Homo sapiens: one gene and its partners. The protein of the gene in region 3 interacts with the protein of the main gene of each other region in a pairwise test. Each region holds a gene or a part of one and is shown on either strand. Other genes may lie near its edges. The genes, in order: CCDC88B, NAB2 and JAKMIP2.

Evidence for each region.
Region 1: the proteins of JAKMIP2 (region 3) and CCDC88B interact in binary tests that used the Homo sapiens proteins (3 or more experiments, as listed by UniProt).
Region 2: the proteins of JAKMIP2 (region 3) and NAB2 interact in binary tests that used the Homo sapiens proteins (3 or more experiments, as listed by UniProt).

What each region holds. Positions count from the first base shown.
Region 1 is NC_000011.10:64,343,124-64,346,870, reverse strand, and holds part of CCDC88B (coiled-coil domain-containing protein 88B), read right to left. Parts: intron 3,693-3,747; coding exon 3,546-3,692; intron 3,365-3,545; coding exon 3,256-3,364; intron 3,094-3,255; coding exon 2,957-3,093; intron 2,875-2,956; coding exon 1,714-2,874; intron 1-1,713. UniProt on the Homo sapiens protein: Acts as a positive regulator of T-cell maturation and inflammatory function.
Region 2 is NC_000012.12:57,091,997-57,095,743, reverse strand, and holds the end of NAB2 (NGFI-A-binding protein 2), read right to left. Parts: coding exon 3,746-3,747; intron 3,297-3,745; coding exon 3,163-3,296; intron 2,828-3,162; coding exon 2,776-2,827; intron 2,682-2,775; coding exon 2,549-2,681; intron 2,338-2,548; coding exon 2,146-2,337; intron 1,133-2,145; coding exon 1,023-1,132; 3' UTR 268-1,022; downstream 1-267. UniProt on the Homo sapiens protein: Acts as a transcriptional repressor for zinc finger transcription factors EGR1 and EGR2. Isoform 2 lacks repression ability.
Region 3 is NC_000005.10:147,587,066-147,590,812, reverse strand, and holds part of JAKMIP2 (janus kinase and microtubule-interacting protein 2), read left to right. Parts: 3' UTR 1-3,747.

The DNA of each region.
Region 1 (3,747 bases), on a different chromosome or scaffold from region 3:
GTGAGCCGAGATCACGCCTCCAGCCTGGTGACAGAGGGAGACTCTGTCTCAAAAAAAGAAAAGAAAAGAAAAGAAAGAAACTAGCCAGGCCAACATGATGAAACCCCATCTCTACTAAAAATACAAAAATTGGCCGGGCGCGGTGGCTCACGCTTGTAATCCCAGCACTTTGGGAGGCCAAGGCGGGTGGATCACGAGGTCAGGAGATCGAGACCATCCTGGCTAACATGGTGAAACCCCGTCTCTACTAAAAACACAAAAAATTAGCCGAGTGCGGGAGCGGGTGCCTGTAGTCCCAGCTACTCCGGAGGCTGAGGCAGGAGAATGGCGTGAACCTGGGAGGCGGAGCTTGCAGTGAGCCGAGATAGCACCACTGCAGTCTGGCCTGGGCGAAAGAGCGAGACTCCGTCTCAAAAAAAAAAAAAAATACAAAAAGTAGCCAGGCGTGGTGGTGTGTGCCTGTACTCCCAGCTACTCAGGAGGCTGAGGTGGGAGAATCTCTTGAACCTGAGAGGCGGAGGTTGCAATGAACCAAGATCACCCCACTGCACTCCAGACTGGGCAACAGAGGGAGACTCTGTCTCAAAAAGAAAAAAGTGTCCAGTCCTCCTCTCACACCCACTCCCATGCCTCCCTAGTCAGCTTCCTCTGCCACTTACACCATGGCTACTGCGTCCTGATAGCCCCAAGCTCCCCTGTCCACCAAGGTGACCCTCCTCAAGCGCAGCCCCACACAGTTCTACCCTGGCTTTCCCTGCCTGGGGAGGGAGGACCAACACATTCAAAGCTGGCCCTCATCATCCCTTCCTCCTGGGCCCTGAGCATTCTTTTTTTGTTGTTGTTTCATTGGATGGTGTTTGTTTGTTTTGAGACAGTCTCGCTCTGTCGCCCAGGCTGGAGTATAGTGGCACAATCTCAGCTCACTGCAACCTCCGCCTTCCGGGTTCAAGCAATTCTCCTGCCTCATCCTCCCAAGTAACAGATTACAGGTGCCTGCCACCACGCCTGGCTGATTTTTGTATTTTTAATGGAGGCAGGGTTTCACCATGTTGGCCAGGCTGGTATAGAACTCCTGACCTCAAGTAATCCACCCACCTCGGCCTCCCAAAGTGCTGGGATTACAGGTGTGAGCCACCACACCCAGCCCCTGAGCGTCTTTAATGCCTTTGTCTTTGCACATGCCATTCCCTCTGGACAAAATGTCCTCCCCACCTAGTGACATTATGGTCACTCCTCCTAAAGCCTCCTTGCCTCCACTTGGGCATCAGCTCACCCTCCCATGGGCTCTCGTAGCACTTGGCTCTGAATAACCAGTGCTTGAACACTTACAACATACCCTTGCCAGCATGAACCAGACCTTTACAGCTACTGTCTCCCAAGGTCCTCCTAAGACCACCCCAGGTGGCCAGGAATAGTACCCCTGTTTTACAGAAGGATGCCTGGGGTGGAGGTGAGTCTACTGCTGCAGCCAGAGAGCCAAGATGTGTACTAGGCAGTCCCACCCCCTCCCACAGCGCCCCCATCACACAGTGGACATGGCTCTGTGCCCCAGGCCAGGCACACCTTTGGAAGGCAGGGGTGGACTTGGCCTTTCTATCTCCAGCCCCAGCTCAGTGCTGGGCACCCACTGAACAGCTGCTGATGGAATCAGTAACTCCCAACAGCCTGGAACTCTGCTTCCCAACCCCAGCGGTGAGCCCCAACCTGACCTACCGCCTGGAGGGCCTCCTTCTCCCGGCGCTCCCTCTCAGCCTCCTCCAAGTGCTGGCGGCCCTCGCTCTCCAGCACCTGCATCCGTTCCTCGGCGGCCTCCGACTGGGCCCGCAGCCTGGACCCCTCACGCTCCCACTGCCTCCGCTCCCGGCCCGCTGCTGCCAGCGCCTCCACCAGCGCCTCCCGTTCCTGGGACGCAGACTCCAGCTCCTGGCCAGCAGCCTCCACTGCCTCCCGCAGCCGGGCTTGCTCCCAGGCCTGGGCCTCTGCCTCCCGGTGGGCCTCGGCCTCTGCCCTTCGCGCTTGGGCCAGCTCCTTGGAGAGGCGGGCAGCCTCCGTGTTTTGGGCCTCCAGCTTGCGGGCCTGGGCTTCCAGCTCATCTCCAAGGGCCTCAGCCTTTCTCCTCAACTGTGCCACCTCCTCCCTGAGGGCCTCCTGCTCTGCGACACCACTGGCCAGGCTCTCCCCTGGGATTGGGCCTTCCCAGACCTGGACCTCAAGAGCCCCTTCTGACTTCTGCTGTGGTTTTTGCCAGGCTGGGTCCCTGACCGTCCCTTCCAGCCTCTGGTCATGCTCTCTGGCCTCTGCTTGTCCCGTGGCCAGGTCCAGGCCCTGGTTTGGGCCCTCCTGCTCCTCCAGCTGCACAGAGCTGGGCTCCGAAGGCCCTGGCTTGTGCTCAGGGCCCTCCTGTCTCAACCCCCAGGCCTCAGGCACCAACTCGCCTTGGGGAGCCTCTCTTCCCTCTGTCTCTCCTCCCAGCAACTGCGGGGCCTGAATTTTGGTCCCTGGACCCTGAGGTGGGGCCACAGAGGCAGGGCTCTGGAGAGAGGATCTACGGCCAGCCTTCTCCGGGGACTCCTGTGTCTCCACAGGAGAGCCTGACTCTTGCGGGGACCAGTCTGAGGCCTGGGGGTCCATGGCAGCTGCCTGAAGGGGACTCTCTGCCTCCTGTGGGTCTGAATCAGGTGCCTGGGGACACTCAGCTGATGCCTCGAGCACTGAGTCTAATGCCGGGGGAGCCAAGTCCAAGGCCTGGGGGCCTCCATCCCTTGCCTTCTGAACCAAGCCCTGAGGGCTGTGGTCGAAGGCCACAGGAGTCTGGGGAGCCTCCTCCAGCACTGGAAGAACAGGGTCCTCTCTCGGTGCCTCCAGCAGGGGGTGCTGAGGGCATACGAGAGGGACAGTCAGGCCCAGGGAGGGACTAGGGGAAGGGCCGGCCAGGACCCTGGGGGAGGGGACTTACCTGGCCCCCTGGCTGCCCCTGAAGCACCTGAAGCAGCCCCCGAAGCTCCCGGTTCTCCCTCTCAAGGGTCCGAAGCCGCCCAGCCTCTGCCTCCCTCACCTCATCTTGCAGCGAGGGGGCCGCTCCTGCTAGGGGTGCTGAGGATGAGAGATGAGGTCAGGACCCCTCCTTTACTGCCTGGCTCCTCACATACACACCCCAGAGGCTTGGGAGAAGGGAGGGAGTCAGAGGCTCTCCCCAGTACACTGCTGGAAAGCATAGGAAGCCCCCACCCCAGCCCTTCCAGTGGGGTCCCTCACCCTCCCCAGGGGATCCTGGAGGTGGCTCCAAGCTCCGCTGAAGCTCCAGCTCCAGCTCCACATTCTCCTCAGCCAGCTGGTCCACCTGATGCCGCAGAGAGTCCAGCTCCTGGGGGTGAGGGAAGGGTCAGACAAGCCCTCCACACCATGGCCAGGCCGAGTGTGTAGGTCGGAGGGTCACTAGAGGTCACCAAGAGCAGAGGTTGCAAGAATCACTAGGGACCACTAGGGAATCAATGGGGTCATGGGGTGACGGGGCAACCCAAGTGGGATCACTCTGGCTACCTTACCGCATGGGCCTCGCCCAGCCGGGTTCGCAGCAGCAGGTTCTCGCGCTGGGTCTCGTGCAGCCGGGCGCAGCGCTCTCGGGCAGCCTCCAGCTGCTCTTCCAGCAGCGCCTTGGACGCCTCCAGCACCCCCGAGAGCACCCGCTCCTCCTGGTGGGAGAGCAGGGAGAACCGGTAGCCACGCAGCCCCCATGCACTCCAGCGC
Region 2 (3,747 bases), on a different chromosome or scaffold from region 3:
CTCTCTGACATATGCTAACCCCCAAATACTCTGAATTTGGAGTCTGACTGTGCCCAAGTGGGTCCAAGTGGCTGTGACATCTACGTATGGCTCCACACCTCCAATGCTGCCTGGGAGCCAGGGTGAGAGTCTGGGTCCAGGCCTGGCCATGTGGCCCTCCAGTGTATGAGAGGGCCCTGCCTGCTGCATCTTTTCTGTTGCCCCATCCACCGCCAGCTTCCCTTCACTCCCCTATCCCATTCTCCCTCTCAAGGCAGGGGTCATAGATCCTAAGCCATAAAATAAATTTTATTCCAAAATAACAAAATAAATAATCTACTGTACACAATCTGAAAAGAAAGACGCTCTAACTGCTCAGATAGGTGCTGCGGTCCAGCCCCCAGCTGGAGGAGACCCTGAGTCCAACCCAGGCCTCCCGAGGGGGCCAGTGAAGGGATCCCACACCCACCGCCCCTATGTAGGGCAGGGAAGAAATTGCAAAGGACTTGGGGGATAGATGGGAATGGGAGGGCAAACTGCAGCACTTGTTAAATTAATTAAAGAAACAAACCAGAAGCACAAAAACGGGGAAGGAGAGGGGAGAAGGAGCAGGTCCAGTGTTCCCAGGCCCCCAATTCTGGGGGCAAATGTTGCCACTTTTAGCTGGACCTTCCCAGGGAAGTCCCCCTTTCCCCCTTGTCCAAACTGAGTCCAACTGCTCACACCACTGGTGCAAACCTAAAGAGAATGGGAGTGTGTTGTGTGAGGGAGGGGAAAACCCCAGATGCCCTGGAGGCAGAGTCCTTGCCCCCTCGCTCTGGGCAGGGGTGAGGGCACCACGCACCCTCCTTGTGTCCTCTCTCCAGGCCTCTGCTTGTTATTGCTTGAAGCCCCACAGTCTTATGCCCATGGAGCAGGTGGGGAGGCAGGAGAAGGGCAGAGGAAGGATCCAGGGTTGTGACTAGATTCCGGGGATGGAGAGCGTGGGGGTCTGTGTGAGCCAGAAGTCTGAGGTCCTGGGTCTGAAGACACCAGTCCAACCCTCACTGCCGGCTGGCCTCAGCCTCCACTTTCACGCTGCTCCTGCGACCCTCCACCAGCGCGGGATGGGGTCCTGGGGCAGGACATCTGTCCAGCAGCCCTTCCTCGAACTCTGCAGGGAAAAGGGGGCAGTTAGGAGACTGCAGGGTGACTGGCTGCAGACAGAGGTGGTTGGGAACAGAAGCAGGGGCAAAGAAAGCTGTGAAGATGGGCTCAGTTTAGGTTTATTGAATTACTGCCTCCTGCCCACTGCATGTGTATGGGGGGTTCCATTCCCATGTGTGTGAGCCCCCTCCCCTCCCTGGCTGTGCGTAGCTCTGTCTCTGTCTGTCTCTCTCTCTTTCTCTCCCGCCTCCTCGGTTGCGCTGGAATTTCTGGTTCTGTCAGGAGCTGCGGGGGTGGTTTGGCTCTGACCTCTCCCCTCCCCCCTTCCCAAGCTCTGCCACCCCCACTCATCCCTGGCCCCCTCCCAGGCCCCTCCCAGGCCACTCTACCATGGCCCCCCAAGTTTTTTGGTAGCCAAATCAGAGGGAGAACAGGAAGCCAGCCTCCGAGCTCCTCCCTCAAGAAGAGCCCCCCTTCCAGTCCCCGCCCCCACTTCCCACCCACGCACAGTTTAAAAATACCAAGCCAGGGTTGGTGGCTTTGTCTGCTGCGTCACTCTCAGCCCAGCGGCTGCCCGGCCCTCCGCCTGCCCACTCCCTCTTCCCCCTTCCACACACAAAGCATCACTGCTTTGGGCTCCTCTGCTTCCAAGCTGGGCATCCCCATCCCCATACCCACAACTCCTAGCCTGCTCCCCACTCCTGGGTTGGTGGAAGTGCCATCTGAGCTTCCCTTATTGATGCTCCTCCTTCCTGCTCCTTCATCCTCTTTTCTCTGTCCCCCCATTCCCCAGTTCCCCTTTCACAGATCTACACTAGGACCAGACTTTCCATGGTGGGAGCAGCTCGGCAGGGTCTGCCTCTCTGCACCCCAAGGCCTGGCTGGCTGGAGCCCAGCCATCCTACTGCCCTCTCTGACGACTATATCCCTCTTCCTCCCACCTGGCCCCAGGACACCAGAATTGCTGTGTGGGGCCTGAGTGGCCGGGGTGCTTGGGGACAGCACTGCTGGCTGCCTCACCTGCGAGAGGTGGCTTCGCAGGCACACAGGGGCTGAGGCGGCCCACGCGGTCGTGGGAGACGAGGCGGGCGAGCCGCAGCCCCTCGTCCATCAGTGTCTGCTGCAGGATGTGTCGGCTCCATAGCCCATGGGCTGGCAATGCCAGAGGCAGGTCAGCAGGGGGCGGCGTCAGCCTTGGACATGACCCCACAGCTGTGGGCATGGGCACTGGTCAGGTAAGGGGCTGCAGCCAATGGAACCCCCACCCTCAACCACATAGCCAGCCCACAGGCCCTTCTGCCCCCCCTCCAGCCAGGTCTCCCAACCCTGTTTCAGGCACTGCCTCCTGGCTCACTCCTCCCCCAACCCCCTCCCCTACTCCCCCACCCTCAATGAAGAGAAAAGTGTTCTGAGGCACACTCACCCTGCAAATGTCCATCCAGACTCTCCCCAGACAGGCTGGCGCTGTCCTCCTCCAGGCTGGGGCGGTATGGGGGTACATAGGACTCAGGGCCTGGGGGAGGCTGCTGGATTTCAGGGTGACTCTGTTCTCCAACCTGTGGATGCCCAACATGGGGAAATGAAGACCTGCCAAGGGAGGGGATTGGGGAAGGCTGCCCAGTGCCCCTATATGCACCCCGGAAAACATACCTCTTGTTTCAGCTTCTTCAGTGGAGGGCCTCCCAGTTCTTCAGGGTGAAGCCTGAAAAGATGGGTAAGAATAAAGTGGATGAGGCTGACGAGGGCCACTCGACTGGCAGAGCACAGAACCCAGCCAGAGGCATGTGTTATTTAAAACCTTTGCCAAGAAGCTGGCCGAGAAAGAGTCTCTAGTTCAAGCACTATTGTTGTAGGGGGTTGGGGGGACCCGACATGGATGGGAGGAGAGACCAGACCTGAGACAAGCTGACTTGGCCAAAAGCAGGACATCCAGGTGGGCGGGAAGCAGGCCTAGAGCTGCCTGAGCTGAAGGTTAGGACATGATCTAACTCCATAGCAGGATTCCAGTCCAGGAAGGACCTGGGGAAGGGGTCTCACCTGGAGCCCTTCAAGGAGGACAAGTAGGTGCTCTCTCGGGCTACTTGGCGGGACAAAGAGAAGAGCTCCACTCTCCGTAATAAGAGCGTGTTGTCCCTCATGCAGAACTGGGCAGCAGCCTCGTTGATGGTGAGCTGTGGAGGGAGGGCAGCCAGGAGAGTCAGAATTCGAACTTCCCCGCTGCCTCACCAGACCTCCTCACACCCCTTCACCATTGGACAAATGAGGCCCATCCATCAGACGCTTGCTTTGGTTTTGACACTACATGGGAGCTTTCTGAGGTGGGAAGACAGAGGTCAGCACCCACAGCTTCCTAGGAATGCCCGGGGCCTCCTCCTCTCCTGTGGGGTCCTGAGTGACAAGGAGCTGAACAGCTCGGTGCTGCCTGTATCTCTGCTTCCCCCTCAGCTGAGGATGGAAGCACTGCGGCCGCTGGGGTAGGGGCCTGTTGGGGAGGGGATCAGGGCCTGGGGTCCTGGTCAAGAGATAATGAAAGATAGTCGGAGACTGTAGAAACTCGCAGAGGTAAGCGGCTGGAGACCTGGAAGTCAAGGGCAATCCTAGGAGGCCTGGGGGTTCTCACCT
Region 3 (3,747 bases):
GTAAATCACATGCTCCCTGACTTAGTTCTGTTTAGAACGCCAACATCTATAGGGAACATGGGCCAGAGAGCATCTCTGAATCTTTCATTTCCAAAATACTGTTTTTCAAATGGCTGCTTAAAATTGCCTGCAAATGAATATGCTATATGATTTGGGCAAAAACACAGCAGAATCAATGAGTAAATTTCTACCAAGAGTCGGGTTTGCCACAGAGATGTGAATATTAAACTAAACTATTATTTTTTAAAGAATCCTCACATGCCTAGAGCATTCTGACCTCTTCTTGTTTAGAGTGATAACATTTTTTCCCAGACAGATGACAGCAACAAGATAGCTCTACTTTTTTATATGGAAATAACATTATGTTACTGACAAGGTCATTTTCTACCAGAGACAATTAGAGGACTGGTACTTTTCCTAAGTTGTGTATTACTGAGTCTTGGAGTCATCTCTGAGAGCAAATGTATGTTCCTGAAAAGCTAATTTTACACCTCATTTACTGTAGATAACAGAACAACCTCAATTTTTCAAATTTTTGAAGTTTTATTTATGGGGCTAGAATTCCCATGCATAGAGAATATGTGTAGGGAGCCAGAAACTCTTTCTATGAAATGCTATACAAATCTTTCCATATGTGGGTTCACTATCATCCTTCAGTTTTAGCACTGGCATTTGCAAAGCCAGAACAATAACTGAAGAATGTACAATAAAAACTAGAATGCTGGGGTCCCACTTTTTGTTCTTACATTTACTGCTGACCCAGGTATCTTTGGCCCAGTCACTTAACCTCTCTGTGCCTCAGTTTCCTCATCTGCAAAATGGGGTTAAAATGCTTTTTCATAAAGTTTTATTTGCAATTTTAGAACAAGAGGTGCTTAAAGTAGCACAATGTGCTTTGTAATTATTACAAGTGCTGTATTATTTGACTTTCTTGTGTTGTTGACAAAAAGATTCCCTCATGTAATAAAATAGTGCTTCAGTTTGGTTAAATTTAAGCACTATAGCACTGAAGCTTGCTTATCAAGCTACTTGGGACATTATTAGCAATAAAAATTGAGAGATTCAAAACCAGGATCTTTAATAATCTATAGGAAATAGATCATCTCATGCTATTGAACAAGATAGAAGAGTGTGTCATTTCTATGATAAGCATCTCCCAGCTCTCTTGATTGCATATGCATGCCATCATACAGAACCCCACTTTTACCACAGGAGAGCCAGTCATTAAACAAAGGCTTGGAGCAAACTGACAGTATCACATAATTAGCTTGATTATCTTTTATTCTGGAGGAAAGCCAGGTGGTATGCCCTACTGGGAAGATACAAAACAGACTATCCTGCTGTATTCTTTTTTTTTTTTTTTTTTGAGATGGAGTCTTGCTCTGTTGCCCATGCTGGAGTGCATTGGCACAATCTCGGCTCATGGCAAGCTCCACCTCCTGGATTCAAGTGATTCTCCTGCCTCAACCTCCCTAGTAGCTGGGATTACAGGTGCACACCACCACACCTGGCTAATTTTTGTATTTTTAGTAGAGACAGGGTTTCACTATGCTGGTCAGGCTGGTCTCGAACTCCTGACCTCAAGTGATCTGCCTGCCTCAGCCTCCCAAAGTGCTAGGATTACAGGTGTAAGCCACTGTGCCCGGCCTCCTGCTGGATTCTTTATTCAACTAGGTAGGTTCCAGATTAAATATGAGCCATATGCTCATTAGGCAAGAAATGTGAAAGAGGGTGCCTCTACAGTGTTGGTGACCCAACACTAGCCAACTTGAGTCAGAAAATATGGAAGAGGATAAATTACTCTCACATATCTAAGACTTTTCCATTTTTCTTCACTTTCTGTTGCAGGGCCCATATGAGTAAATCTATATTCCGTCTGCTCCAACACACACCTTCCTTCTCTTAATTTTGCTTTCCCACCCACCAAGAAATTTGTAAGTCAAAATTTATTTCCATGAGTAACTATTTCTAAATGATTGAAAATTTTTGAAAAAGTGGTATGGTTTATATACCTAATCTGCTTATCTGCTATAAGTCATATGAGAACAACAGCTAGGATGATTGTCCAAGCAGCTTTAGATGTGTTTAGGGCCAGGCAAAAGGTTTGCTTGTTTTTTCTTTTTGCTTAAGATCTGGGAGATTAGCAAATTTCTCAAGACTATAGACTGAACTGTAATTTTTACCAACTCTTGCTCATGAGCCTCAAAATGAATATATCCTTGAATAAAGTATAAATATTTCAATAGATACATCTCTCTATTATCCATTTTCACAATTATAAAAGCATCAGCAAAATTGTGGATATGTGTTCCAGTCACTCATGGATCCATGGAAATGGACCGTGTTTAAATGAATGCTTCCCTTGGATGGGATGTTCAGCAATAGCAAAAAAAAAAAAAAAAAAGTTATCAATAACTGAGATTTCCTGTGGCCCCACTTCTGCATCTGTACTACCGAGATGCATTTGGCTACTGAGTTTGTAGCAGTCAGAACAGCATTCTTCCGGGTTCATTAACTTAATTTTTCTCAATAAAATATTCATACCCTGGAAAATAAACATAACTGACTACTAAAGATAATTTGAGATAAATAAAAGACCCAATTTAAATAGTTATTCAGGATAGAAAAATTTCATGAAAGAGGGGAAAAACATAGAGAGACTATCTTTGACTATCATACTTAAAAAGCATCTATTACTAAATTGAATGTCAAACTTTTCTTTAATGCCACCCTACTTTTAGGAAATAGAATTTGCTGAAAAAAATTACAACCCTTCTGACTTATGCTATATAAATTAAATTATTACCAACAGTTAGGTTTTAGGGGTGGAAGAATAGATCTTGATTTAATTTTTTTTTTTTTTTTTGGCCCACAAATAACTGCTCATACAGGTTGTATGTGTCTTCCCAAGTCCATAAGGTAGAGCTGATATAGAAGGCCTGGGTTATCACTTAGGTAGAGAGCAAATGTGTTCTCCACTAGTAATAGGAGAAATAAAGTTTGCCAAATAAATTTTGCTGCAGTATTTTGTTTCAACTTTGCTTTCAATTTTAAATAAATCTCTGGCAAACTTGTTCCTTTTTGCCCATTGACTGTCAAATTTTCCTGTAAACCCATTGTGTAATTCTTATGTTTGCTTTAACATAATTCACAAGTTCATTGTTTCAAAATGAAGCACGTCTTTTTAACCTGCCTAGGTTTTTGTAGAAACTGTAAAAAGAATATTCATTGGTTTTGTGTTGATGTTTAAATAATTGGATCATCTGTGTTATATTACATCAAGATAGATGGACAGCATAGAAATTTTATTTTTAAAATATTTAATTGCATTATTTCAATCTGTCAAAGAGTGGCACAGAATACACACACAAACACACACACACACACACACACACACAGAGCAATAGAAATTTGCTCTGTAATTTGGGAGTTGCATTGCTTGTTGCCTTTTGTGAAATTTTCATAACAGTGTTTTGGTAATTAATGACAGCTTTTGGCAGTTTAATTCTATCATTTTACTAATTTAGATTTATCTATTACATTGAAAAAATTCAATATAACTTTTGAATGATAAACATTCAAAGCAAATCTTAGATGACTGTTTATGTCATGAGTTTATGCTTCCAATATGGACCCAAGCCCCTCTTTAAGCAGACTTCTAGGTCTTAAGTGAGGAAAGATGTCATTGTGTTCTACTGCCTTGTCATTTCTATATAATGTAGTATCTTGAGATCTAATTTCAGGCAT